Homo sapiens: one gene and its partners. The protein of the gene in region 1 purifies or fractionates together with the protein of each later gene. This does not show direct contact. Each region holds a gene or a part of one and is shown in the gene's direction. Other genes may lie near its edges.

What was found. Proteins that work in one complex are often made in the same cells at the same time.
Region 2: the proteins of NOC2L (region 1) and RBM34 purify together in Homo sapiens (affinity purification with mass spectrometry; 2 studies listed by BioGRID and IntAct, with this or other methods). This does not show direct contact.
Region 3: the proteins of NOC2L (region 1) and MAK16 purify together in Homo sapiens (affinity purification with mass spectrometry; 2 studies listed by BioGRID and IntAct, with this or other methods). This does not show direct contact.

Annotation. Positions count from the first base shown.
Region 1 is NC_000001.11:949,236-956,256, reverse strand, and holds part of NOC2L (nucleolar complex protein 2 homolog), read left to right. Parts: intron 1-41; coding exon 42-162; intron 163-243; coding exon 244-334; intron 335-2,174; coding exon 2,175-2,253; intron 2,254-2,364; coding exon 2,365-2,475; intron 2,476-2,968; coding exon 2,969-3,082; intron 3,083-3,656; coding exon 3,657-3,845; intron 3,846-4,117; coding exon 4,118-4,257; intron 4,258-5,018; coding exon 5,019-5,130; intron 5,131-7,021.
Region 2 is NC_000001.11:235,158,231-235,165,808, reverse strand, and holds the start of RBM34 (RNA-binding protein 34), read left to right. Parts: upstream 1-4,558; 5' UTR 4,559-4,582; coding exon 4,583-4,635; intron 4,636-4,741; coding exon 4,742-4,916; exon of another isoform or gene 4,917-5,161; coding exon 5,162-5,298; intron 5,299-5,307; exon of another isoform or gene 5,308-7,578.
Region 3 is NC_000008.11:33,480,452-33,488,201, forward strand, and holds the start of MAK16 (protein MAK16 homolog), read left to right. Parts: upstream 1-4,730; 5' UTR 4,731-4,755; coding exon 4,756-4,770; intron 4,771-7,750.

The DNA of each region.
Region 1 (7,021 bases):
TCTCAGCTCCCCTGACGCCCCTGGTACTCTTGCTCCTTCAGCAACGCCTCACTCCAAAGCTGTTCCATGAAGTGGTACAGGCGTTCCGAGCAGCTGTGGCCACCACCCGAGGGGACCAGGAAAGTGCTGAGGCCAACAAATTCCAGGTCACGGACAGTGCTGGTGAGCTTGGGGGGAGCCTGGCATCCAGGCTGTCTGTTGCGTTCTCTGTCCCGTGAGTACATCCAGGCCTTTTCGTTGCAGCATTCAATGCTCTGGTTACCTTCTGCATCAGAGACCTCATTGGCTGTCTCCAGAAGCTGCTGTTTGGAAAGGTGGCAAAGGATAGCAGCAGGTAAGAGGGGAGGGGGTGAAGGGGGGTAGGGTGGAAGGTGGGTCGGGACCACACACAGGAGAAGCCAGAGGCCTTGTGGCTAGGACAGAGACATGGCAACAGAGCCAGCGTCTTCTTGGGGACCCTGAGAAGGCAGCGGGGCACGAGGGACCGTTGGGAGAGGCTGGGCACTTGGGGCCAGTTGGAGCGGCCCCACCTTCTTTCCTTCCTGAAAAGGGAAGTTGTCTGCTCAGAGTCTCAGAAGGTGTGGCGTGTGCAGCTGCCTTTGCTCTCAGATTTTCCCAGGTTAGGGTTCTTGCTCTATTTCCCTTTGTAAGAACTTGTAAGTCCTGTCCATACTCCTTGATCTCTGCACTATGACTGGCCTGTTTCCTGGAGCTGTGTGTGTCTGTAGACAGGGGCCTCATCAATGCTGAGAACCTGAGGGCCTCAACTTCCCCTTTAGAGAAAGATTGGGCAGAGAAGGCCGTGGAAGGTTTTCAGAGAAGAGAGACGCACGGCCAAGCATTTGGTAGAGCATGGAGCACGTTGGGGTTCCGGGGCTGTGCAGCCATGTGACCTTGAGGCAGTGGAGGCCTAGAGTTGGAACTGCCCCAGGACACCTTCAAAGGAAGAAAGGAGACCCACAGGAGAGGTCTCGCCGACAGCGGCTCAGGAGACAGGGGCACTGTTGCTGGTGGTAGTGGTCGGGGCTGGACGGATAGAACAGAGCCATGTCCACATGGAGGCAGTGCTGTCCGAAGGGGACAAGGAAGCTGGCAGATGGGGGTGGAGGGACAGGCAGCGATTGGGAGGCAGCACGCACTGCAGCCTGAGCCACCAGGTCAGGGACCCCTGTCGAGGCAGCAGCTGTACCGGAGGGAGTCAGGCCGTGGGGAGCAGAGCTGCCTCCTGGGTCTGGGTGGGCAGCTGCAGGTGCCCAGCAGCCAGTGTCAGCACAGGTGTGAGGAGGGTCGAGGACGGGGGGCCTTTCTGGGGCCCTGCCCTTTGTCCTTCCCATGCTTCAGCAGATTTTAGTGAGCGCCTACTGCGTGGGCTCTGGTAAATGTTTTGTTTTGTTTTGTTTTGTTTGTTTGGTTTTTGGTTTTTTTTTTTCCTTACGAGATAGGATCTTGCTCTGTCGCCCAGGCTGGAATGCAGTGATCATAGCTCACTGCGACACGTACCTTCTGGATTCAAGTGATTCTCTCACCTTAGCCTCCCAAGTAACTGGGACTCCGCCACCAGGCCTGGATAATATTTTGTATATTTTTGTAGAGACGGGGTCTCACTGTGTTGTTCAGGCTGGTCTCAAACTCCTGGGCTTGGAGTTTGATCCTCCTGCCTTGGCCTCCCAAAGTGCAGTGAGTACTGGCATGAGTCTCCACACCTGCCCTCTGATTTTCTTTTCTTTGTGCAGCAAATGTGGGCCAAAGGAAACCAGTCTGCGGCAGTTGGTGGTGCCTGGGCGACCCCAGAGGTGCTGAGTACCAGCTGCTGGGCTTAGGGACCTCGTGTGGTCTCACGGTGGGGATGTGATCAAGGGGACCTAGAAAAGGTTTATGTCTGAGAGGGAGTTGGAGGCTGGGACTTCCGGGGACTCTTAGGGCGGTGGCCAACCCTGGGCAGGGCAGACAGGAGTTCAAGGCCACTGAAGGAGGAGCTAATGCACTTGAGAGGGTCCTCCTAAGCCCCTGTGTCTGTCCAGCTGTAAGGGGCCCTGAGCTTTTTTGAGTGGAGAGACGGGGGGTCTCTGCAGAGTCGTAGAGGCTATGCTGGCCAGGGCACGCGCCAACATGCTGAGCAGCCTCGCGTCCGAGCCGTGGGGCCTCCCAGCCAGGGGTGGGTGGTCTCTCTGCAGGATGCTGCAGCCGTCCAGCAGCCCGCTCTGGGGGAAGCTTCGTGTGGACATCAAGGCTTACCTGGGCTCGGCCATACAGGTGCTATTCTGGTGGGGAGGGCACGGGGGCCTGGCTGTATCTGGTGGTCGGTCCTTTTTTGTATCCCAGAATACATGGGTTTGGGGCTTCACTGTCCCCTCCTGCCCCCAGCTGGTGTCCTGTCTGTCGGAGACGACGGTGTTGGCGGCCGTGCTGCGGCACATCAGCGTGCTGGTGCCCTGCTTCCTGACCTTCCCCAAGCAGTGCCGCATGCTGCTCAAGGTTCGTGGCCCAGTCCCCTCCCTGTGTCTGTCATGGGGTCGGGGGGCCACACGGCTACCCCCACCACATCCCACTCCTGGCCAGGGCACAGGTGGTGCCCACACTCCACTGGCTCCGCTTGGCTAGAGAGGCCACAGAAGCACCTGGCCCCCACCCCCACCTGGGGTTTCTGTCTCAGGCAGTCCCTGCCTGCCCGGGCAGCGCGGCTCAGTCCGTGAGCAAAGCCACGGTGAGGTATCTTCTTCCCGGTGTGATCTCACATACGTCGGCGTGTCTGACGTGGTAAACTTTTGTGGTCCTCTTCTCACAAGGAGCAACACACCTGTTCTGTTCACTTCTGTAACTGAGCACCTAACTCACGGCTCCCCCGAGGTGCTTTGGGAAGAGCTGGTGGCCATGGGAGCCTTTGCCTGGCTGGGGAGGGCTGTGCTGGCCCTGGGGCATCCCTGCTGAGGAGGCTGGGGGGCCACCAGTGACGTCTGACCTTCTGCAGAGAATGGTGATCGTATGGAGCACTGGGGAAGAGTCTCTGCGGGTGCTGGCTTTCCTGGTCCTCAGCAGAGTCTGCCGGCACAAGAAGGACACTTTCCTTGGCCCCGTCCTCAAGGTAGTGGTGGGCCCTGCGTCTGTGTCCCTCAGCATCTGCATTGGAAATCTCGGCCTAAGGGCAGGGCGGGCTGCCTTTGTGGTTGGTGCCCCTCACTGGACCCTCACTGCAGCTCTGAGCAGACCTGGGCCCTTGGATCACGAATGTCTCACAGAGCACCTGGGGGTGGTGGGCAGGGAAGAGAGCCCTCGGCCTTCTCAGGGCCCCACCTGGACCCTGCTTCACACAGCTTCCCCAGGGGAGGGCCTCTCTGGCTGGAGGAGGACACTGGGTGTTGGGACCTGAGGCCATGGCCAGGGTACAGTCCTACTGCCCGTCCCCAAGCCATGGGTGGCCTGCATGTGGGGACCCTCAGCCCCCAGAGGGGCCCAGTGTGCAGCAGGAGCTTCTGCCCCAGCTTCTCCCAGGCCTGAGGCTGGTGGGCACTTGGGGGTGGGGGCTGTGCAAGGGGCTACGGCTCTTCCTCGAGGCCCAGCTCTGAGGGAAAGGCCCAGGTGTTCACAGGGGCCCTGGAGTGGGCGGTGGAGGTGCATGGCCCTGATCCCAGGTGGCTCTGACCCGGGTCTCTCCGCAGCAAATGTACATCACGTATGTGAGGAACTGCAAGTTCACCTCGCCTGGTGCCCTCCCCTTCATCAGTTTCATGCAGTGGACCTTGACGGAGCTGCTGGCCCTGGAGCCGGGTGTGGCCTACCAGCACGCCTTCCTCTACATCCGCCAGCTCGCCATACACCTGCGCAACGCCATGACCACTCGCAAGAAGGTGTGTGGTGGGGCCCTTCCAGGCTCATGCTGGGCATGGGGTGGGGCAGCCCAGGTGCCCGACCCAAGGCAGGGCCTGGGGCCTCCCCGAAGCCCCTGTCTGGAGACAGCCCAGCACCCTGGTGCAGTCGGTCCTTGCAGGTGGGGGAAGGGTGGATGGGTTGAGACCCCGTGTGCAAGATGAGGAAATGATTCCTGTGCCGGCCCAGGAGGAACGTGCATCAGCCTGACTTGTCAGCCTGGCCAGTAGCTGACGTGGTTCTCTCTGACCAGGAAACATACCAGTCTGTGTACAACTGGCAGTATGTGCACTGCCTCTTCCTGTGGTGCCGGGTCCTGAGCACTGCGGGCCCCAGCGAAGCCCTCCAGCCCTTGGTCTACCCCCTTGCCCAAGTCATCATTGGCTGTATCAAGTGAGTTGTGGGGTGGGCAGGGTTGTGCGGGAGGGTCAGGAGAAGCAAATTTGCTGGGACTGTGTGGGCGGTGCCTCTGGCGTTCAGGGCCTTGGGGCCTGAGTCTGTGTCCTGGCCGTCCCTGAGGAAGGGCTGGGGTCCCTGTACCTGCTACGGGGAGATGCTCTGGATTCTGGAGAGCTAGGGCTGGTGGGCACCTGTGACATGAGCTCCTCCAACAGCGGTTTAGCCGCCTCGGGTGCCACCCAGCGTGTGTTCTGGGGGCTTGTGTGCAGTTTGCAGTGAGTTTGGTTCATTACGTGGGGTTCTTGGGTGGAGCACATCTGATGCAGTGAACTGCATTTTGGGTGTGAGCGCTTAGGAGGGTCCAGGCACGGTAGGGGCTGCAGCAGGAAAAGGTGGGAGCAGTACTGTGGCCTCTTTGGCCAGGAGGGGGCATCTGTCTGGCTGAGCCTTAGAAACTCAAGGCTGGGAAGGGAGGTGGGAAGTCCAAGGGAAGAAGTAGGAAAGGCGGGAACAGGGAGGAGAGCAGGCAGGAACAGATGACCCCTGCCACCGTGTTGAAATAAAGCTGAAAGCTGGGTAAGGTACCTGCAGCCCCATAGCTGGGCAAGGGGTGCAGGTCCCTGGGGTTCAGACGTGCCTTGTCCTGCTTTAGGGGTCTGATGTCGGTGAGTGGGGGAGGAGGTCCAAGACAGCAGGGGGAGGGGCAGGGGCTGCCAGAGCCGGGGCCTCTGCTCACTCGGCCTTCCCACCCCCAGGCTCATCCCCACTGCCCGCTTCTACCCGCTGCGAATGCACTGCATCCGTGCCCTGACGCTGCTCTCGGGGAGCTCGGGGGCCTTCATCCCGGTGCTGCCTTTCATCCTGGAGGTGAGTGAGGCTGTGGTGGGCGTGTGGCACCTCTGCCTGCTCCTGTAGGGAGCATCTGCTGCTCCGGGCGTCTGTGCTGAGTTGTCCGGCGACTTCCCGGAGCCCTGGCCGCCTCCTTGTCACGGGTGTCACGAGGACAGTGCTCCTCCGTGTGCTGGGGGCAGTGTTGGGGAACGTGGGACCACTGGGGATGAAGGCGGCTGCTGCTAGGGCTGTGCTTGAGGATGCCGGGACCTGACCCTGTAGGTGCTTGCCCAAGACTGGAGTAGGCAGGAGGCGAGATGGGCCAAAACCCAAGTCTGATTGCTGAACTGTACACTGAACAGTGCCCTGCCCTGACAGTTGTGTGCATGTGTATGCATTTGTATGGGGGATGTGTGTACATCTGGGTGGGTGCGTTTGTCTGTGCATGCATGCGTGTGTGTGCACCATCTGGGTGCATGGGTCTGTAAATCTGTGTGTGTGTGCATATCAGTTCATGTGTGCATCTGTATGTGTGTATGCACGTGTATCCATGAATGCCTGTGTGCCTGCAGGTGTGTGCATCTGTGCGTGTGTACACCTGTGTGTATGCATGTGTGTACCTTTGCGTGTACCTTTGCGTGTGTGCACCTGTGCATGTGTCTTTGTATACCAGTGTGTACCTGTGTGTACCTGTATGCATGCACATGCGTGTGTACCTGTGTGCACCTGTCTGCATGTGTGTACCTGTGCGTGTGTGCACCTGTGTGCATGCATTTGCGTCTGCATGTGTCTACCTGTGCATGCATGAACCTTTGCATGTGTGCATCTGTGTGCATGCATGTGTGTCTGCGTGCATCTATGTACCTGTGTGCACCTATGTGCATACACACGTGTCTGTGTGCACTTGTGTGCATGCATTTGCATCTGCATGTGTGTACTGTGCGTGTGTACCTGTGCGTGTACCTGTACACTTGGGTGCATGCATGCACGTCTGCTTGTGTGTGCCTGTGCGTGTGTGCACCTGTGTGCATGTACGTGCGTCTACGTGTGTGCCTGTGCATGTGTGCGCCTGTGTGTACCTGTGTGTATGCATCTTTGCACGTGCACATGCCACTCAGGTAGGGAAAGATTGGAGTCCGAAGTTTCAACTTTCAGTGGGTGGGTTAGGCCCCACCCCGCTGTAAATTTAGGAATTCACGATCTCCACCCTGTTTATCTAATGAGTTCTCAGCCTCATGAAGGCCCAGAGTCGTGTCACAGCTGTCCTTGGGGCTGGGTCCCCAGGTTGCTGGGTCCAGAAGGTATGGAAGCCCCAGGCACGTTCTGATTCCCCTTCCACTGAGGCAGGGATGCTGAACATCTTTAGGAAGCCATGTTCACTCCCATGGCAGCCAGCAGTGGTCTCTGATTGCCCAGCCCTTGGCCTGGCCCCTGTGTCTGTGGGCCTCCAGCTCTGCTGCCCAGCTCCAGGCATGCTTTGTGTCTGTTTCCCTTGTCCAATCTCCTTGGCTACGTGCTTTCTTACTCTCTTGCAGTGTCTGTTTCTTCACTTGTGCACTGCCCTGGTTCACTGCAGCCGCACCCTGTAGGCCCCTCTCACGCAGGGATGCAGGCCTCTCCTCTCCGGAAAAAGCAAACCCTAAAAGCTAAAACAAAGCCCTCAGCTGTAGGCCGTGCCTGCCCTTCCCCGGTGCCTGGACAGGAAGCCAGTCGCCTGCCCATACTTTTGGCCCAGGCTAGAGAAGGGCAGTGTCCTCCCAGAGGTTCATCAGTACCAGGGCGTTTTCCCATCTGGACCTGAGCTCAGCTGTCTGGCAGCCACCCCTGCTGAGTGGGGTGTCTTGCTGGGGCCTCCACCCTTGGGCCCCCCATAATCTGCTTCTGTCCTCTGGTGCCCCAGCATGTACCCTGGATCTCTCTGGTTCAC
Region 2 (7,578 bases), about 230 Mb from region 1:
GCCTGTAGTCCCAGCTACTCGAGAGGTTGAGGCAGGAGAATGGCATGAACCTGGGGGGCGGAGCTTGCAGTAAGCCGAGATCGTGCCACTGCACTCCAGCCTGGGCAACAGAGCGAGACTCCGCCTCAAAAAAAAGAAAACCTTTCTTTAATACAGAGAGAGGCCGGGCGTGGTGGCTTAATGCCTGTAATCCCAGCACTTTGGGAGGTTGAGGTGGGTGGATCACCTGAGGTCAGGAGTTCGAAACCAGCCTGACCAACATGGTGAAACCCTGTCTCTACTAAAAATGCAAAATTAGCCGGTCATGGTGGCGCATGCCTGTAATCCCAGCTACTAGGGAGGCTGAGGCAGGAGAATCGCTTGAACCTGGGAGGCGGAGGTTGCAGTGAGCCAAGATTGCACTCCAGCCTGGGAAACAAGATTGAAACTCCGTCTCAAAAAAAAACAAAAACAAAAACAAAAACGAGAAAGGAAATCAACTTTTTTAAGGCCTAGAAAGCTTAAATACATATTTTTTAAAGCATCTTTGTGGTGGCCCTTTATTTTCACAAAAATTAGTTTAAGGGATGATATTTTAAATCTGTGGAACGGTGCTTCCCAAAATGAATTCCTAGAATACTGGTCCCTGGAAATGCTCTGGGAATTTATAACCAAATATATTTTGGAAAATCTATGTATAGCACATTCTTAGAGAATCACAGTGTTTGCATATTAAAAACTTTGAGAAGGCCTGTGAAGAGATACCTGCCTAATAACTTCCTTTACCCTACTGTTTTCAATCCCACCTAATCATGAAACCCTGTTTTTTGAGGAGCTCTTAATATCACATACTGAGTATGTTATAGAAACAGTGCTGAATAGGGGAATTATTCCAAATTTTGGTGGAGTCGAGATTTATGACTTTGTGCCTCTCTGTCTCGCCTGCCTTCTTGTTCTACGTCCTACCTTCTTAAGAGGGTTTGAGGATTTTATTGAATTAGTAGAATTGACCTATGTCTACTTCTGGTCACCTAAACTAGACTTTACTAAGTTAGTTTACAATTGACATATTAAGATGGTATGTTTTTCTTTTCTTTTTTTTCTTTTTTTGAGACGGAGTCTCACTCTGTTGCCCCAGGCTGGAGTGCAGTGGTGCAATCTTGGCTCACTGCAACTTCTGCCTCCCAGGTTCAAGTGATCCTCCTACTTCAGCCTCCCGAGTAGCTGGGACTACAGGCACGTGCCACTGCACCCAGCTAATTTTTTGTATTTTTAGTAGAGAGGGGTGTTTCACCGTGTTAGTCAGGATGGTCTCGATCTCCTGACCTCGTAATCTGCCCGCCTTGACCTCACAAAGTGTTGGGATTACAGGCATGAGCCACCGCGCCCACCCAAGATGATACGTTTCTTAACGGTGTTCTCCAAAACGTTTTTTTTCCTACTGAAAAAACTTTAGAGTGGGGTCTTGTTAATTTCTTTTTTTTGTTTGTTTTGTTTTGTTTTAGACAGAATCTCGCTCTGTCGCCCAGGCTGGAGTATAATGGCGCCATCTTGGCTCACTGCAACCTCTGCCTCCCGGGTTCAAGTGGTTCTCCTGCATCAGCCTCCCGACTAGCTGGGATTACAGGCGCCCGCCACCATGCCTAGCTAATTTTTGTATTTTTAGTAGAGATGGGGTTTCACCATGTTGGCCAGGCTGATCTCAAACTTCTGACCTCAGATGATCCACCCACCTCGGCCTCCCAAAGCGCTGGGATTACAGGCGTAAGCCACCGCACCCGGCCTCCTTTTGTTTTTTTGAGACGGAGTTTCGCTCTTGTTGCCCAGGCTGGAGTGCAAATGGCGCAGTCGCTGATCTGAAACTCCTGGGCTTGCATTCCTTCCGTCTTGGTCTCCCAAAGTGCTGGGATTATAGGCGTGAGCCACCTTGTCCCACCATGTCCTCATATTTTAAAAAACTCTCAAAGCAGTAAGTGATCTCTAAATGGTTAAAAACAGCACTGAACAGCAATGAAGATAATTTTAAAACTATCTGCAACCACAGCTGCTTTCGCAGTCTGTTTTCTTCTATAAGTATCTGCTACCTAGCTGGGCACAGTGGGTCATACCTGTAATCCCAGCACGTTGGGAGGTCAAGGCGAGCGGATCACCTGAGGTCAGGAGTTCGAGACCAGCCCGACCAACATGGAGAAACCCTGTCTCTATTAAAAATATAAAATTAGCCAGGCATGGTGGTGCATGCCTGTAATCCCAACTACTCGGGAGGCTGAGGCAGGAGAATCGCTTGAACCTGGGAGGCGGAGGTTGCAATGAGCCAAGATCGTGCCACTGCACTCCAGCCTGGGCAACAAGAGTGAAACTCCGTCTCAAAAAATACACAGAATAGAATTCTATAATTCTAGAAATATAGAATATAATTTCTTCACTGGACTGGATAGAACAGATTTTTGAGTTGTATCGCATGCATGTATGGATAAGCTTTCTTCATCTTTGTGAAATACCAGAAGATCAAGATTATGGGAAACCAAAATAAGGGGCCCAGTAATCAAAACCCAGGGCCGAGCAGTTGAATATTGTGGATTTTTTTCATAAATTTCTCTGAAGGGGGAAGTAAAAGTCACATATATTCCCAGTCAACTTGGTTGAGTAGCTTTCAAAAAGCTTAGGCTGTCCCCAAAAGACTCAAAGTCAAATCCTGGCTGGATGCAGTGGCTCACGCCTGTAATTCCAACCCTTTGGGAGGCCAAGGCAGGAGGACTGCTCAAGCTCAGGAGTTCAAGACCGGCCTGGGAAACACAGTGAAACCCCAATCTCTATTTAAAAAAAAAAAAAAAAAAAAAGGCCAGGCGCGGTGGCTCACACCTGTACTCCCAGCACTTTGGGAGGCTGAGGTGGGCGGATCACAAGGTCAGGGGTTCGAGACCAGCCTGGCTAACATGGTGAAACCCGGTCTCTACTAAAAAAATACAAAAATTAGCTGGGCATGGTGGCATGCACCTGTAATCCCAGCTACTTGGGAGGCTGAGGCAGGAGACTCACTTGAACCCGGGAGGCGGAGGTTGCAGTGAGCTGAGATCGCGCCACTGCAGTCCAGCCTGGGCGACAGAGCGAGACTCTGTCTCCAAAAAAAAAAAAAAAATTAGCTGGGCATGGTGCTGCTGCTTGCAGTTCCAGCTACTCCGTGGTGGGAGGATGGCTTGAGCCCAGGAAGTCAAGGCTGCAGTGCGCCGTGATCTCACCACTACACTCCAGTCTGGGTGACAGAGCAACACCTTGTCTGAAAGAAAATAAGAACAAAGTCAAATCCTATTTTGCCACTCAAACTATTGGATGATTTAACTAGTAATCTTTTATTACCCTGAGAGTCAATTTAACAAATATTCACTATGTACAGCTAATAGAGACACAGCATACATGATGAATAAAACATAATCCTTACTGTCTTGCCTTTACATCTAAAGAGACTGTAACTAACACTAAAGCAGACCAAAAATGATTATAGTAAGTACCATGGGGGCTTGGGAAAATATCCCTATTGTAAATAGCAAAGAATTTTTTTTTTTTTTTTTTTGAGCCAGGGTCTGCCGCTTAGGCTGGAGTGTAGTGATGCGATCACAGCTTACTGCAGCCTCGACCTTCCAGGGCTCAAGGGATCCTCTTGCCCGAGCCTCTCAAAGTGCTGGGACTACAGGCGCCGAGCGCGAAGGTGCCCGTCTAATTTCTTTTCTGTAGAGAATAAGTCTCGCTAGATCGACCAGGCTGGTTCAAACTCCTAGTCCTCACGCAATCCTCCCACTTCGGCCTCCAAATGTGTTAGGATTACAGGCGAGCCACCGCACCTGGCTGCAAAGAAATACTAAGTTAGACAGTATCTGAGGTAGGCCTTGAAGGATGGACATTATTTTGCAGAAGGGGAAAGAGGAGGGCAATTACAACAGAGGGGACAGGAATAACAACTGTAGAGGCAGTGGAGAAAGCAGGCTAGAATGTCAGGGGCTGGAGGGAGATGAGTCTGGGAAGACGGGCTGAGAACACCTTGAAGCGTTTTGAATGCCAAGTATCTACTTTTCCAGGTAGAATAGCAGGTCCGCATTACAATCTTTCGAATTGTATGTTGACGTGACTCGTTAGAGTTGTGGTTTTTATTTTGGAATAATGTCATGTTTCAGACAAGTTGCAAGAAGAGTACAAAGAATTCCTTTGTACTCTTCACAGCGATTAGCAAATTGTAAACACCCCACTGCGTTCACCCCTAACCGCATTTCTTGCCAAACCTCCCTCCCTCCTTTTCAACAAGTCAGTATTCTACGTGTTTCTCTCTCGGCTTGGGTGGACACCCCGCTCCTAGCCTGGCTGATTCTTCACACTGCAGGCTTCAACCACTCCCAGAAGACGTCCTTCACTCCCAAAATGAGGCTTTTCTGAAACGGCGAGGACCACCAACCGACGGCGACAAACCTGCTCCCTCACCCAGCGCCTCCCTTCGCCGCCGCCCGGCGGCCGACTGCCGGAGGGGAGGGGGCGTGGCCAGAGAGCGGAAGTGCCCGGAACCCGGAAGTGCGAGCTGGCGCGCAGCTGCAGTCTGGGAGTCTTTGGAGTAAGAATGGCCTTGGAAGGGATGAGCAAACGGAAGAGAAAGAGAAGTGTCCAGGAGGGGTGAGTGGCGCGCGGCACGAGTACCTGGGGAGGGATGTTGTACGTTCCCTCGTGCTGGCGAAGCGGTGGTGCGTGGCGTGGCTGAGTTTCTGTCGTCCATTTCTAGAGAGAATCCTGACGACGGCGTTCGCGGGAGTCCGCCGGAAGACTACAGGCTTGGACAGGTCGCCAGTAGCTTATTTCGCGGCGAACACCATTCCAGAGGTGGCACCGGTCGGCTGGCGTCCCTCTTCAGTTCTCTGGAGCCCCAGATTCAACCCGTGTACGTGCCTGTGCCTAAAGTAAGTCACTGGGCTTTCTTCCCGAATAGCTCGTTAGAACCACTTACATACAAAGCAATCTTCTTACCTACCGCGTGAAGCGTGATTTCTAAAGGGGGCAGACAGGATTCATTTTAAGTAACCTTTCATGACTCTTACATACCAGTGAGAGAGAAGAGATTCTCATTTAGAAAGACTGAATTATGGCTTAGGGTCAGAATTCTAGAAGTATGGGGTCTCAAATATAACTTCAAACTTTTAAAAAGCAAACCATCAAAAAAACGAAACGGAATGAGGAGGAAGAAAGTACATCCCAGATTGAAAGACCACTTTCGCAAGAACCTGCCAAAAAAGTGAAAGCGAAGAAGAAACACACTAACGCAGAAAAAAAGTTGGCAGACAGGTTGGTAAAATTCTCTTATTTGATGTTAAAGAAATTAGATGGTAAATTAACATTCCTATACTTGGAATATTCGTCAGTTTTATTTCATATTTCTACTTTCTTTCAAAACTTTTATTATGGAAAATCCAGTACATATAGAAAAGTTGAAAAGGCTAAGAAACCCCGTGTACTCAGCATCAGCAATTACTAATATTTGGCTAACCTTTTTGTATTTTTACCCCACTCATATACCCCCTCATTATTTGTTTTTGTTTGTTTTGAGATGGAGTCTTGATGCCACGCCCAGGCTGCAGTAGAGTGCAGTGATCTCAGCTCACTGCAACCTCCGCTTCCCAGGTTCAAGCGATTCTCCTGCCTCGGCCCTGAGTAGGTGGGACTACAGGCCTGCGTCACCATGCCCAGCTAATTTTTGTATTTTTAGTGGAGACAGGGTTTCACCATGTTGGCCAGGCAGGTCTGGAACTCCTGACCTCAAGCGATCTGCCCACCTCGGCCTCCGAAAGTGTTGAGATTACAGGTGTGAGCCACCTCGCCCAGCTACCACCTCATTATTTGGAAGCAAAATGAAAATTTATGTTTCATCTATAAATATTTCAGCATGTATATAAAAGAATTTGGTTTGCGTTTCTTTTTTTTTTTTTGAGACGGAGTTTTGCTCTTTTTGTCCAGACTGGAGTGCAGTGGCCTGATCTCAGCTCACTGCAACCTCCACCTCCCGGGTTTAAGTGATTTTTCCTGCCTCAGGCCTCCCGTGGAGCTGAGATTACAGGTGCCACCATGCCCGGTTAATTTTTTGTGTTTTTAGTAGAGACAGAGTTTCATCATGTTGGCCAGGTTGGTCTTGAACTCCTGACCTCAGGTGATCCACCCACCTCAGCCTCCTAAAGTGCAGGGATTATAGGCATGAGCCACTGCACCTGGCCTGGTTTGCTTTTTAAAAAAAAAATTTTTTTTTTTTTTTTTGAGCTGGAGTCTCACTCTGTCGCCAAGGCTGGAGTGCAGTGGCGCAATCTTGACTCACTGCAACCTCCGCCTCCTGGGTTCAAGTGATTCTTCTGCCTCAGCCTACTGAGCAGCTGGGACTATGGGCGCGCCATCACACCCAGCTGATTTTTGTATTCTTAGTAGAGACGGGGTGTCACCATATTGACCAGTCTGGTCTCGAACTCTTGACCTCATGATCCACTTGCCTCCGCCTCCCAAGGTGCTGGGATTACATACGTGAGCCATCACACCTGGCCGAGTTTGGTGTTCTTAAATTTATTCATTTCCCTCATTAACTTTTTTTTTTTTTTTTTGAGACAAGGTCTGGCTCTGTCACCCAGGTTGGAGTGCAGTGGTGCGATTGCGGCTCACTGCAATCTTTGCTTCCCAGACTCAATCCAGCCGCCCACCTCAGCCTCCTGTGTTGCTTAGACTATAGGCATGCCCCACCATGCCCAGCTAATTTTTGTATGTTTTGTAGAGACGGGATTTTGCCATGTTGCCCAGGCTGGTCGCAAACTGCTGGACTCAAGTGATCCAGTCAGCATTTTTTTTTTTTTTTTAGTAAAAAAATAGAAACAGGGTCTTGCTATGTTGCCCAGGCTAGTCCTGAACTCCTGGGCTCAAACCATCCTCCTACCTCCGTCTCCCCAAGTGCTAGGATTACAGGCATGACCCACCATGCCCGGCCAGCATAACGTTGTTTAACAGTGTATTTGAATCAAGATGCAAATAGTGATCCCATCACGTGTACCTAGCTAACAGTCTTCATTCCTCTCTTCTTTGCCACTCTCCTCAAGCCCCTTATTTCCTTTTCCCTTTTCTCATTTCAACTGAAGACCTTTGTACCAGTTCTGGAGCTGTTAATCACTGACAGTTGGGAACTGCTACTTTTTGTCCTATTTAAACTTAATGCATCTGTACACAGCCATATTTCTTCCCCTCTTTCTTAGAGCAGAGTGTCTTCCCTCTTGTCCAAGATTAACTCAACCACCTGGGTGCTGTGTGTACCACATATGTTCTGCCTTTTTAGGGACTGTGCCGTCAGATCCATCCACGTTCGCCTCTTTCCCTTATCCCTCGTTTTTTTTTGTTTTTTTTTTTTGTTTTGAGATGGCGTTTCACTGTTGTCGCCCAGGCTGGAGAGCAACAGTGCAATTTTTGCTCACTGCAACCTCCGCCTCTGGGTTCAAGCGATTCTCCTGCCTCAGCCTCCTGAGTAGCTGGGATTACAGGCGCCCACCACCACACCCAGCTAATTTTTGTATTTTTTTGGTAGAGATGGGGTTTCACCAT
Region 3 (7,750 bases), on another chromosome or scaffold:
GACAGGAGGCTGCAGAAATGACCCTCCCCATAGGACTTCTAAAAAAAAAGTATTGTTTACATTTTATTTATTTGTGTTTTTAAATTGATATATCATAGTTACATATATTTTGGGGGTATGTGTGATACATGTATACAATGTGTAATGATGAAATTAGGGTGATAGAGGTATCCATCACTTCAAACATTTTTCTTTGTGTTGAAAACATTCTAATTCTTCTCTTCTAGCTATTTTGAAATATGCAATAAATTATTGTTAACTATAATTTCCCTACTGTGTTATCAAATACCAGACTTTATCCTTCTATCTAAGTGTTTTTTTTGTACTCATTAACCAACTTCTCTTCCTCCCCCTCCTCTCCATAGGACTTACAATCATTGTGTTGAACTCAAGATCATCCAGCTCCAACAATTTTCTTTCCTTTCCTCCTTTGCAGTTCTAGCTGCTCAATTATTATTTTGGCAACCTAAAAATCACATTAATAAAGAGATGCTAGACCAAAAGAACCCTGAAAGTTAATAAAGAAAAAAAAAGAAAGAAAAAACAAAATAAAGTGATGCTAGACCTCTGATAATGACTCCCATTTCTTCCAGCTAGTCATTACATTTACAGAGAGAGGTTCTTTTTTTTTTTTTTTTTTTTTTTTTTTTTTTTTTTTTTTTTTAATGAGATGGAGTCTCTGTTGCCCAGGCTGGAGTGCAGTGGCGCAATCTCGGCTCACTGCAAGCTCCGCCTCCTTGGTTCAGGCAATTCTCCTGCCTCAGCCTCCCAAGTAGCTGGGATTACAGGCGCCCAGCACCATGCCCAGCTATTTTTTTTTGTACTTTTACTAGAGACAGGGTTTCGCCATGTTGGCCAGGCTGCTCTCAAACTCCTGACCTCAGGTGGTCCACCTGCCTCAGCCTCCCAAAGTGCTGGGATTACAGGCGTGAGCCACAGTGCCTGACAAGATTTATAGAGAGAGGGTCTAAATTCATTCCTGCACATCTCTTCCTTTTGGGGAGCTCTGTGGTTCTGCTAAAACAACAACAAAAAACTATGTATTTTTCTTCTCCTTAAATGGTTTATTCCTCTGATTGTATACAAGCAAACACACATGCTTTACAGATGAGCAACTTTATTAGGTTTAATCCTCCAACAAGCTGCCTTCCACACTTCAGGGTTTCGTGTGTGTGTGTGTGTGTGTGTGTGTACACTTCATAGGAAACCTGACTCTGCCCAGGGTTAGCTCTGGGAAAAGTTGCTGTGGGAGTGGCTGAAGGTGGCAGAGGCCTGGAAGGTAAGACAACGGAGACCCTGTCTCTAAATAAATAAGTAAATAGAGACCTAACAACTAATTTATTGTGAATTTATTATGTACCAGGAACTGTACAGGAGATTGTGGATAAAGAAATGAAAAGACATCATCCTTAATCTTGAAAAGCTCAACGTTGGCCTGGCTTGGGCGCTCACACCTGTAATCCCAGCACTTTGGAAGGCCAAGGTGGGCGGATCACCTGAGGTCAAGAGTTTGAGACCAGCCTGACCAACATGGTGAAACCCTGTCTCTACTAAAAATGTAAATATTAGCTGGGCATAGTGGAACACGCCTGTAGTCCCAGCTGCTTGGGAAGCTGAGGCAAGAGAATCGCTTGAACCCAGCAGGTGGAGGTTGCAATGAGCTGAGATCGCACCACTACACTCCAGCCTGGGCAACAGAGTGAGACTCTGTCTCAAAAAAAAAAAAAAAAAAAAAAAGAAAAGAAAAAAAAAAAACAGAAAAGCTCAAGGCCTAAGAGATAATAAACCAATAACAATAATACAACACTAGTGAGGAATACATAGTGCACTGTGGTAACAGAGGAGAATGCGGGTATGTATAGAGAATGTTGAAATAGCATTACATTTTCTTATCTTTTCTTTTCTTTTTTTTTGAGACTGAGTTGCGCTCTGTCACCCAGGCTGGAGTGCAGTGGTGCGATCTCAGCTCACTGCAACCTCTGCCTTGTGGGTTCAGGCAATTCTCTGCCTCAGCCTCTCGAAGAGTTGGGATAACAGGCACCCACCACCACGCCCGGCTAATTTTTGTATTTTTAGTAGAGACAGGGTTTCACCATCTTGGCCAGGGTGGTTTCGATCTCCTGACCTGCTGATCCATCTGTCTTGGCCTCCCAAAGTGCTGGGATTACAGGTGTGAGCCACCGCACACGGCTAAATTTTCTTTCATTCTTCTTTTGAACTGGAGATTACTTTTTGTTTGTTTGTTTTTTTAATGAGACAGAGTCTCGCTCTGTCACCCACGCTGGAGTGCAGTGGCGGGATCTCGGCTCACCGCAAGCTCTGCCTCACTAAATACTACATAATATCATGATAAATGCTTTTAAACTTTATATCAAATTTCTCATGTGTTTCAGTTGCAGTCAAATCCAGGGTATCCCTAGGGTGACCCCAGTGAGTCCCACTCCCTGGTGTTCATGTCTTGTATCTTCTCCTCCCCTCCAGTGAGGGTGGCACCTGTGACTTGATCTAACCAATGGCATAAGGCAAAGTCTATGGAAAGTCACTGCCATAATTTTTTAAGATTATTTAAGATTATTTAAGATTAACATTATTTAAGATTCTGTTTTAGCAGACTGGAATTTAACTCGTTGCTGGCTTGATGAAGTAAGGAGCTATGTTGAGAAATCCCATGTGGCAAGAAGCCACAGGCAGCCTCTAGGACCTGTGGGTGGCCTCCCGGACACACGCCATCCTTACTGAGACTGTGTCCTTCTTACACTTTTGTTATTAAAATGGTCTTGTTACTGGAAAGTGGTCCCCAATCAGACCCAAGAGAGGGTTCTTGGATCTTAAGCAAGAAAGAATTTGAGGTGAGTCCATAAGTTTCGTAAAGTGAAAGCAAGCTTATTAAGAAAGTAAAGGAATGAAAGAATGGCTACTGCATAGGCAGAGCGGCACCGAGGGCTGCTGGTTGCCCATTTTTATCGCTATTTGTTCATGTATTTTTTGAGACTGATTCTTGCTCTGTTGCCCAGGCTGAAGTGCAGCGGCTTGATCTCAGCTCACTGTAATCTCTGCCTCCCAGATTCAAGTGATTCTCCTGCCTCAGCCTCCCAAGTAGCGGGGACTACAGGTGCCCACCACCACGCCTGGTTAAGTTTTGTATTTTTAGTAGAGATGGGGTTTCACCACGTTGGCCCGTCTGGTCTTGAACTTCTGACCTCGGGTGATCCACCTGCCTCGGCCTCCCAAAATGCTGATTACAGGCGTGAGCCACCAAGCCCAGCCTATTTATTGATTATATGCTAAACACGGAGCGGATTACTTACGCCTCTCCTTTTTAGACCATATAGAGTAATTTCCTGATGTTGCCATGGCATTTGTGGCGCCAGTGGGAGTGTAGCAGTGAGGACGACCAGAGGTCAAACTCATTGCCATCTTGGTTTTGTGGGTCTTGACTGGCTTCTTTACTGCAATCTGTTTTATCAGCAACATCCTTATGACCTGTATTTTGTGCTGACCTCATCCTGTGATTTAGATGGCCTGACCCTCGGGAATGCAGCCTAGCAGATCTCAGCCTTATTTTACCCAGCCACTATTCAAGATGGGGTTGCTCTGGTTCAAATGCCTCTTGACAGTCTTTCTTTCCTTTTCTTTTTTCTTTTTCTTTTTTTTTTTTTGAGAGGTAGTTTTGGTTGTCACCCAGGCTGGAGGGCCACAGCATGATCTCGGCTCACTGCAACCTCCGCCTCCCGGGTTCAAGCGATTCTCCTGCCTCAGCCTCCCAAGTAGCTGGGATTACAGGCACCTGCTACCACGCCCGACTAATTTTTGTATTTTTAGTAGAGACGGGATTTCACTATGTTGGCCAGGCTGGTCTGGAACTCGCCCGCCTAGGCCGCCCAAAGTGCTGAGGTACAGGCGAGAGCCACCGCGCCCGGCCCGGCCGACAGTCTTTCTTCTATAATACGATACAAACTAGTAAAGATTTTCTTTTTCCCCTGGCGGAAAAGAGCTGTTAGGCTTCCAGATTTGTTTTTGTGGGTTATTAGACCTCTACTTTTCTTCTTGGTATTTTCCCTCCCTTATCAACTTTGTTTGTTGTCTCAAATAGGCAATGAGGAAGACACAGGTGTTTATTATTATTGGAATGCTCTTTCCATTTGGTCAGTGGTTTCTCAAAGCAGGAGGAATTCAAGTTCTGAGTTTCTAAAGTCAGGACCCGGTGCCGCACCCAACGTGGGCGTGGGGAGTGGCTAAGTCAGGGTCTGAGGGGCAGGGCCGGGGCCTGGCTGCGAGCTGGGGCCGGGGGACTCGGAGGAGCGGGGACCCAGCCCCGCCGCGCCGCCTGCAGCTTTCCCCAGCCTCCTCCCAGCAGAGGGGAGGCCCGACAGGGAGGGGTCCCATCCTCATGAACGGTCACAAACAGGGCGCTAGGGAAGCACGCCCGACCCCCGCGGTCCCCGCGCTCCAGGATTCGGCAGACTGCGCGCGTCCTGCCTCCCGCGGATCGCACTGGGTCCCAACAGGGTTCCCAGCTCCAGGCTGCGCCCATGAACAAGCCCAGCATTGCGGACGGGCGCGCGCAGACGCCAGCGTGGTGAAGACGCGGGGGCGCGCGCGCGGCGACGAGACTGCCAGGGGACGCTTCGCAACACCGAGAGTCTCAGCGTTTCTCGAGATAGGTGAGGCTGCGCGTTCCGGAACTGGTTTCCCGGAAGGAGCATGTCTGCGCCCGCGATCCGACCGGAAGTTGCACGCTGAGCCGCGGACACCATGCAGTCGGATGATGTGAGTCTCCTCCGGTTGTTCTTACACCCGGGGTTTGCGCAGGGAATTTTGCCCATTTTCGGACACTTAGAAAACGCGTACGCAGCGGGTCTGTTGCCTCGTGCCGCTCTGGATGTGAGGCTTCCGGAACCCCGATTTTCCAACATAGGTTCTCACGCGTGTCTAGCAGGGGTTTACTGCCCGCTGCCCCGGCCGGGTTGTGAGCACAGGACTCCGTCACCTCAGCCCATGGGGTCGATGTGTCCCGTCCTTCGTGCCTACCAATGCAGGACGTCGCGTCATGCTGTCAGCTGTCAGCTGTCAGCTCCGGACTTGGGGTGGGGGGCGGCCCGGGATTTGGCGAAGCTGACTCCAAGTTTAAGCGTCCTTCTCATCCATGTGCGCGTTACTCTTCCATCTGCGTTTCCTGTGTAGGCTTTTCTTTACATTTGCTCTACTTCTGCCTAAGTCATAATTTCGGAAGTATCCTAGATTCATTCATTGAGTTTTTTGTTGGAGAAATAACAGTGTGCTTACAGTGTGCCAGGCATTGTGGTAATTATTGAGGATTTGGTTAACCAGAAAAAATGTCCCACCTCTCCTGGAACACTGATGGGGGAGACACAGTAAACAAGTGAACAAATAAGTTAACAATTACACTATATAATCATACTATGAAAGAAAGACCAGAGATGATGAAGGACACTTCAGATAGGGTTACTCAGGGAAGGTTTCTCTGAACAGAAGATGTTTGAGTTGAGATCTAAAAGATAAGAATAAGCCAGTCACTGAGGAGCTGAGGAAAAAGCAATCCAGGCAGTAGGAACAGTAAAGTACAAAGAGTTGAAGATATGAGAGAATGAATATAAGGGTCATCAAAGTGACAATGTAAGACAGGTAATGAAATTAGATATGCTTGCCAGGGCGAGGTCATGCAGAATCTTGTAGGAAGTGTTTTTTAGGCCTTTTAATGATCTATGTTTGTGAAAAGTTGTCTAGTTGCTGTGTGAAGGACTTTTGGAGGGAAAAAATGAAAGCAAGGAGACTAGGGTATGACAAAGGTTGCTTCAAGCCAGACACAGTGGCTCATGCCTGTAATCCCAACGCTTTGGGAGGCTGGGGCTGGAGGATCGCTTGAGGCCAGGAGTTCGATTCCAGCCTAGGCAATAAAGTGAGACTCCATCTCTACAAAAAATAAAAAATTAGCTGGGCGCGGTGGTGTTCGCCTGAGGTCCCAGTTACTTCGAAGGCTGAGGCAGAAGGACTACTTGAGCCGAAAAGTCCGAGGCTGCAGTGAGCTATGATGGCACCACTGCACTCCAGCCTGGGTGACAGAGAGACCCTATCTCTAAAGTAAATAAATTTTTTTAAAAACGAAAGTGGCTTCGCCTAAGGTAGTAATTTAATGGTGGAGATGAAAAGAAATTGATGAATTTGAGACCTTTTACGTCAGTATAATTGACAAGACTTTGGTGATGGATTAAGTGAAGAAGAAAAGGAAGAAATCAAAGGATTTGGGATATAAATACATAGTTAAATGGTGATTTTATTTATTGAAGTGGGGGAACTCTAGGGAAGACTGTTCTTACGAGGGATGTGGAATTGAGAACTCCTTGTGGATATGTTAATATTTATGTTGCCTTTTAGATATTGAAGAGATGTCATATAAAAATCTGGTGCTCAGGAAAGAAGTCTGACCAGAAAATAACAATTTAGGAGTCATCCATTTAGAGATGATACTTAAAGCCACAAGCCTAAAAGAGCTCCCTTATTCTTCTTACCTGTTTCCTACCATCCCCCACCAGACACACCTATAAAATTCTTAAAGTGTGTTTTATTCTTTTGCCCTCTTCATATTTTTCCTTTAACAGTGGTAAAGCTTTTTTTTACCCCAGTTCCTCAAGGCAGCGCACTCAAAGGCTGTCATACTCTTACGCATGCTATGTGGCCTTTAGACCTGCTATTTTGTGATACTTTGTTTACATATCTTTCCCCTAACTAGATAGACGAAACTCTTTAAAGAGTATACTTTCTTTCATTCAGCAAATACTTAAGTGGCTACTGTGTGTCAGGACTTGGAGATGTCAGTGCCTTACATAAATTAAGTATATAATGCTGAATGAATAAAGAGCACATTAAGTACAGGAGGATAGCAGTAGATAGTTTTCTTTGCCCTCAATGAGATAAAATTATGGTATGTATATCTAAAAATCTAATACCATGAAGCCTTTTTTTTTTTTTTGGAGATGGATTCTCACTCTGTCGCCCAGGCTGGAGTGCAGTGGCGTGATCTCGGCTTACCGCAACTTCTGCCTCCTGGGTTCAAGCGATTCTCCTGCCTCAGCCTCTCAAGTAGCTGGGATTACAGGCACCTGCCACCACACCTGGCTAATTTTTCTATTAGTAGAGATGGGGTTTCACCATGTTGGCCAGGCTGGCCTCAAACTCCCAACCTCAAGTGATCCGCCTGCCTTGGCACTCAAAGTGCTGGGATTACAGGTGTGAGCCACTACACCCGGCCCATGAGAGCCTTTAATAATGGATAATGAACATAAGTAAAAAGGGAAAGTTACGAAGTATATAAAATGTGATTTCACAGAGTATGTCAAAAAAAGTCTGGAAAAATATTTACAGAATAGTAATGAAATTTTATCTCTGGGTAATGGAGTTATGATTATTGCTCATCTGTATTTAGCTTTTCTATAAGAATCTGCTGGGCTTTTTTGTTTTGTTTTGTTTTGTTTTGAGACGGAGTTTCACTCTTGTTGTCCAGGCTGGAGCGCAATGGCACAATCTCGGCTCACCGCAACCTCCCTCTCCTGGGTTCAAGCGATTCTCCTGCCCCAGCCTCCCGAGTAGCTAGGATTACAGGCATGCGCCACCATGCCCAGCTAATTTTGTATTTTTAATATAAACAGGGTTTCTCCATGTTAATCAGGCTGGTCTCAAACTCCTCACCTCAGGTGATCCGCCCAACTCAGCCTCCCAAAGTGCTGGGATT